Linked DNA regions of Homo sapiens. The protein of the gene in region 1 purifies or fractionates together with the protein of each later gene. This does not show direct contact. Each region holds a gene or a part of one and is shown on either strand. Other genes may lie near its edges.

The links.
Region 2: the proteins of C20orf96 (region 1) and GATB purify together in Homo sapiens (affinity purification with mass spectrometry; one large-scale study listed by BioGRID and IntAct). This does not show direct contact.

The regions. Positions count from the first base shown.
Region 1 is NC_000020.11:270,363-273,750, reverse strand, and holds the end of C20orf96 (uncharacterized protein C20orf96), read left to right. Parts: intron 1-2,483; coding exon 2,484-2,544; 3' UTR 2,545-2,888; downstream 2,889-3,388.
Region 2 is NC_000004.12:151,705,508-151,709,007, forward strand, and holds part of GATB (glutamyl-tRNA(Gln) amidotransferase subunit B, mitochondrial isoform 1 precursor), read right to left. Parts: intron 2,595-3,500; coding exon 2,481-2,594; intron 1-2,480. UniProt on the Homo sapiens protein: Allows the formation of correctly charged Gln-tRNA(Gln) through the transamidation of misacylated Glu-tRNA(Gln) in the mitochondria. The reaction takes place in the presence of glutamine and ATP through an activated gamma-phospho-Glu-tRNA(Gln).

The DNA.
Region 1 (3,388 bases):
TGTGCACCACCATGCCTGGCTAATTTTTATGTTTTTTAGTAGAAACGGGGTTTTGCCATGTTGGCCAGGCTGGTCTCAAACTCCTGACCTCAAGTGATCTGCCTGCCTTGGCCTCCCAAAGTGCTGGGATTACAGGTGTGAACCACCATGCCCAGCCTGATTCTGCATTTCTAAGAAGCTACCCGGTGATGCTTATGTTACTGCTCTATGAACCAACCACATGTTGAGCCTTGAGCTGTGAAGGAGCTATGGTTGGAAGGAACTTGGCATTGACACGGAGCTGAGTGAGGCCAGAGTGGTTGGAATGCAGAGTGACAGGGAGAGTGGCGGGAAGGGAGCAGGGCAACTCAGCCCCTAGGGACCTCCATGCAGTGCCCTGTAGGCCCAGATGTTCTGCCTGATCCCAGAAGCAAAGGATCTTAAGCCACATGATCAGATTTGTATTCCAAAAAAGTCAGTTTGAAAAGAGCATGGTGGGCTGGGTGTGGTGGCTCATGCCTGTAATCTCAGCGTTTTGGGAGGCCAAGGTGGGAGGATTGCTTGAGCCCAGGAGTTCAAGACCAGCTTGGGCAACATGGTGAAACCCCATCTCTACAAAAAATACAAAAGTTAGCCAGGCGTGGTGGCGTGCGCCTGTAGTCCCAGCTGCAGTGAAGGCTAAGGCAGGAGGATTGCTTGAGCCCTAGAGACAGAGGTTGTAGTGAGCCAAGATGGTGCTACTGCCTTCCAGCCTGCTTAATAGAGCAAGACTCTTTCTTAAAAGAAAAGAAAAGAGCATGGGGATGAGATTGGCAAGGAGCCAGAATGGCAGCTGGAATTCTAGTGGGTGTGAGGGCAGTTGTCCAGGGGAACATGGGAAGTGGCCTGGCCAAGAGTGTGGCAGAAGAAATGGGAGAAATAGATAGATTGGAGAAATATTTAGGAAAGTAAGAAGGACTTGCATGACTTGGGAAGTACAGGAAAGGGAGGTATCAAGAATAACCCCTGGGTTCCTGACTTTTATAATGGGGTGGTGGTGATGTCAAATGCAGAGATTGGGAAGGCTGGGGCGGGGTGAGGGATGTGTATGTAGGCACAGTCAAAAAGTTTATTTGGAGGCAGGCATGGTGGCTCACACCTGTAATCCCAGTGCTTTAGGAGGATGAGGAAGAAGGATCGCTTGAGGCTGGGAGTTCGAGACCAGGGGGACAACATAGTGAGACCTCCATCTCTACAAAAAATTAAAAAATTAGCCAGATGTGGTGGCACGTGCCTGTGGTCCCAGCTATTTGGGAGGCAGGAGGATCGATTGAGGAGTTCCAGGCTGCAGTGAGCTGTGATTGCACCACTGCATTCCAGCCTGGGTGACCGAGTGAGACCATGTCTCAAACAAAACAAAACAAAACAAAAACCATACAGTTGACTTGGACAGTAAGTTTGATTTATATGAGGTGCCAAGGTGGAGTCATTGGGTGGGCAATTGACAAGATGAGTGTAGACCTCAGAGGACAGATATTGGCTGGAAGTAGAAATTTAGGTGTTGCCAGCATAGAGATGAACTTTTTTTTTTTACTATTATTATGAAAAATTTCAAATATAAAGAAGAGAGAATGATATAATGAATAGCCAGTTTTGCCCATCTAGATTTAGAAATTTTTTTTTTTTCTATGTTGGTTTCATGTTCATTTTTTTAATAGTATTTGTAAATTGCAAGTATCCTGACATTTCCTGCCTAAATACTTCATGTGTATCAGCAGATTATTGAAACCATGAGAGAGGATGGTCTCCTTGGAAGAGAGAAAAGAGAGTGAAACAGAATGTAATCCTTCAGCCTCTTAAATATTTGTGCTGGTCCCTGCAATGGGGAATATATTGCTGATGGGAATCCATCTCTCTTGCTACTTTCATGGAAATAATAATGCCTGTCATTTACTGAGCACTTATTACCTGCTGGCATGGTCTCATTTAATCTTTCCACCAATGACTGAGGTTAGAATATTAAACCCATTTGACAGATGAGGAAACTGAGGCTCACTTGGGGTCTGGGACTTAATGAGTGCTTTTCACTTAAGTGCCAACTGAAGGAGTGAGGCTGGGAGAGTAGAAATAGCTTGCTCAAGGTGACACAGGTCAAAGTTATCAAACCTGTCATCCTCACTCCAAAGCCAGTGATCATCTTGAGGGCCCTCAGCATTTCAGAGCTGAGTTCCTGCTCCCTCTTGACCTCAGACTTGTCAGGGGAACATTTGTCCTGCCAAACTCATTTCTTTTCCATTTTTGATGTGTGTGTATGTGTGTGTGTGTGTGTGTGTGTGTGTGTGTGTGTGTATGCTTGTGTATGCACAGTTGGGCTTTGAGGTCACAGATAGATCACAGATTGTATTTTGGGATTGCCCCCCAACCCAAGTACGTACCAGAGTTCTAAAGAGCAGGGCTCCTCTGAGTGGGTGCTCCCACACCGCCACCTCTGGTCTCTCATGGCCTTCTGTGCTGCCTCCCACCAGGTGCACCCCAGACATGGATGTCATCCTCAACATTCCTGTGGAAGAGCCACTACCCTTCTAGATGGCAGTGCCATGGGCCGCCCTCCCCTCCTGCTCTCTTCCCAGCACCTGGAGCCTTGGATCATTTACTTCCAGGACCGGATCTCCATTCAGACCCTGATCTACAGTCTCCCTGCTCCCTCTGCCCTTCCTCCCTCTTTCTTTCCCTCCCTCCCTCCCTCCCTTCTTCCCCCCTTCCCTTCCCTCCTCCTTCCTTCCTCCTCTCCCTCCCTCCCTCCTTTCTTTCTTCCTGTGGTTTTTTCCTCTCTTCTTCCCTTCTTTCTGGTTGGTGCTGCTGGGCCAGGTGGGAATTTCTGATTAAATCTGCTATTCCTTTTTTACCAATAAAGCTGGATTTACATTTGCTTTTTTGCCAGTGTCTCGGGGTCCCCAGCTAGGTCTTGCAGAAGATGTGGTGGGAACGGACTTCGTCTTATGATAAGGGGCGGGCAACTGTGCTAACTGCATCTGGGGCTCAAAACTTCTCCAGAAGAAGTGCTGGAGCAACCCCCTGCCTGAGTCTCCATGGCTCAGTGGCTCTGGGCCACTCCCTCCTGGTGCAGTGGGAGCCCAGCTTCTCTCCAATCTGTGCCCAGACCTATTGAGGGCATTGTCGGGGCTGACAGGCTTATTGATTTTAATACCCCTGGAACTTGCTAGGCCTTCAGTGCTTGGAACAACTCAGAAGGGCTACTCTGGCTCCAGAACTTCCTGAAGGCTCAGCTGCAACTACCCTTGGGCCTGCACTGCAGCTGAACTTCTCCCTGTGCCCAATCCTGCATATTTCTGTCTTCCTCAGTTGTTGATTCCAAGAGCACTCATTACTCAACATTCTGCACCCTACACTCCATCTCAGAGTTGGCCTT
Region 2 (3,500 bases), on another chromosome or scaffold:
GAGAGATTAAGCAACCCCATGCAGATGACATGACTTGGCAGAAGTGGGGCTGGGCCCAATATCTCGGTCTGAGATTGCTGCCTACCCAGGGCCCTTACCCTGGGAGTCTGGGATGGGCTTCAAAGGCTCTGGTATCCCCAAAATTATACACAAAGTGTGGGTTGTGTGCATATGTGCAGGTTTTGGAGAGAGGGTCCAGCATTTACATTATCTTTTCAGAGGGACCCACGACCCCAAATGATTAAGATCCAAGGACCCATGCCTCAGCATCAAATGAGGGAGGCTGTGGGAATCAAAACACAACCACAATTGCTAAGCTGTTGCTGCTTTTTTTTTCTTTTTTTGAGAGATGGGGGTCTCACTATGTTTTCCAGCCTAGTCTCAATCTCTTGGTCTCAAACAATCCTCCTGCCTTGGCCTCCCAAAGTGCTGGGATTACAGGCATGAGCCACTAAGCCCAGCCTGCTAAACTGCTTTATGAAAATATCTTGAGCCTCCACCTTAACTCTCCCTCCCACCATGTACTACCTTCCCTTGCCCAAACCTAAACCCTTTTATCTGAGTTGCTAAGAGGCAGCAACAGCAAAACGTGTCAGTTTTTGCTCCCCATCTCTCCCCAACTCCAGTGATCTCTTTGGTTGACACGAGATGATGGCTAAATGGCCTGACATAGGGAGAAAAAGGTGGTGAAAAATCACAGGCTTGGAGAATTGAACCCATAGTAAAGCTTTGGCTCTTCCACTCTGAGTCAGACCACAGGGAGATTTCTCCCTCAGACTGGTCCTCCAAAGAGTTCTTCATAGGACAGGAGAAGGTTAGGGGTCTCCTTCAGAACTCATGGATGACTCTACCTAAAATTGGGCTGCTTTTTTAAGGTTACCATCACCACCTCTTAAAATAACGGGTCCCAGCCCACTACCTACAGGGGGAGGTGGAACTTCCTCCATTTGTTCCAGGCTTCCTCCTCACCAACTTGGCTTATAAGGGTTTTCCCTGACTCAAACCTTTCATGGCTTTGGGAACATGGGCTATGTCCCTTTCCGGATGCAGAACAGTTCACCATCTTTAGTCTGCCTTCATATAGGAGCCTATCCCTTCCCTCTCTGCTCCCATAAGCTATCCGTTTGACCACTTTAATGCCTTTTTCCTGAAGACTGTCTTCATTGAGTGGTTGATTCACTTCAGGTTCAGGACAATAAGGTCTAATACAAGACTAGAATCATCTTTTCTGTACTGTTTCTAATACTTTTCTTGACAAGACCAGGGCTCTATTAAACATTTTGGCTACAGCAAAACTTTGGCAACAGATTCAGTTGTCTTGGTCTCTGTGCACCCTTGAAGGGGTGCACTTCAAACTCCATCCCTCCCTCTTCCTCTCTAGATAGCTTCGGTTTTAAAAAATCTTTTTAGTCCTCTGAGGTCCTCCCCTTGAATTCACAGTTACCTATATCTACGGGACTGCTCAGATATTTATCTTGCTAAACTATTTTAGTTATTATACATTTATCATCAAAGAAATACCCACAGTGTGTGCTCCAGAAAGACTACTACTTCACTGCATGGGCACATAATCTAGCAGTTAAAAAGAATATAAAAAGCAGGAAAACATAATGACCATTTAGGTCAAGCCATGGTCAATCTAAAATGAACAACCATGACCTAGTAAATCTCAAGCTGGTCAGAAAGAAGGTGGTAAATGGTAAAACACAGCCATGATCTTTTGTGGATCCTCTGATAAAGAGGTGGAGTCTAATTTCCCCTCAAGTCTGCTTTGAATTCAATGTAATTTTCTTTTTTTTTCTTAGAGACAGAGTCTTGCTCTGTCGCCCAGGCTAGAGTGCAGTGGCGTGATCACAGCTCACTACAACCTCAAACTCCTGGACTCAAGTGATCCTCCCACCTCAGCCTCTTGAGTAGCTGGGACTACAGGTGCTCACCACCATGCCTGGCTAAATTTTTAATTTTTTATAGAGATGGGGTCTTGCTATGTTGCCCAGGTGGTCTTGAACTCGTGGCCTCAAGCAATCCACCCACCTTGGCTTCCCAAAGTGCTGGGATTATAGGCATGAGGCACTGTGCCTGGCCTCAATCTACTTTGAATAGAACACATTGGAAGTGACACTGTGTGAGGTCTACAGCTTAGGACTCACTTCTGCCTTCATCCTCCCGAAATGCTCCCACTGCCTCATAAGAAAGCCAAGGCTAGGCAAGTGCATGAAGAAAGATCACATGGATGGAGAAGCCCAGCAGACATCAGCATCAAGGCCCCAAGGTATGAGAGCGACTACCATGGACCCTCTGCTTCAGCTGGCCTGCCGGTTTCCCACAGCCACATGAGTGAGCCGACACAGGACCAACAGAACGGACCAGTGAAAACGAAAGTAGTTCTTGTGTAAGCCACTAAGTTTCTGGGTTGTTTGTTACCCAGCAAGAGAGAAACAATAGGAAGAAGGACACTAGGAGCGGCAGCTGGCATTCACCTATGGCTTTGGCCAGGAACCTGATGCTGTTGAGATTCTTCACTTCCGTTCGAACGCCCAAAGGCTCCCCAGGGTGATGCACGGATATATTGGCATCCACTCTCAACTGGCCCTCTGGAAGGAGAGAAGAAAACAACTCCTTAGAAATTCTTTGAGGTGACATAGTCTTTTAAAGGCAGGGAGTGTCAAAGGAAGCAGCATCTAACTCTACCTGCTGTTTAGTTATAGCAGCCTAACTTCAGAGAAGGCACGGTTGGTTCTGAAGTAGGTCGTGGCTGGTACTTCTGGCCACTCGAGAGGGGTTACAGTCCTGAGGCATCTACAGTGTGTGCCTGTACATGTGAACATATACAGATGTGTGTGCTTATGCACATATGGAAGAGAAGTTTTAGATTCGCCAGCTGGAGAGATCTAATTTTTTTGTGCTAAACAAGAAAAACAAAACTATTAAAATGGAGATTGACTCTGCAGTTTTATACTGAAGTTTTTTTTCAAAGTGTCAGAGCTGAGTTGGAGGAAAGGCCTCATATATCTGATAACCCTACACTGCTCTCCATTGGAATGTGGATTTCTAACAGTGATTCCAGGAGATTTAGAGGAGAGTCCTTGAGAATTTGCAGCTCAAGGGCAAGAACTGAAATCTGGGCTTTCCCCCCTCCTCCTTCCTCCAGGTACTGTAATAATCTCTTCCTTCCACAAACATGACTCCGAATCCTTCCTGACTGCTCTAACGATTTGCTACAGCAGACAGACAGCACTGTTACGAAGTCAGGAGTCTGTGGTGGGACTCAGAGAGGTGCTGACCCCATGCTGGGAGGACCTTCTTTGACCCTGGAGGCCCCTCAGATTAGGAGCAACAAGCCCTAAAGAAGCAGGCAATGTGTGGGGAGGACTAAAAGGCTCTTGAGGAAGAGAGAGAGAGAAAAATCCCAAGACAAATAGATGTAGGTAAGAAAGAATCACATTTGGCACCCTACAAAGTAAAGCTCTCAGATTCTCTGTTCCTCGTTTCATTTACAA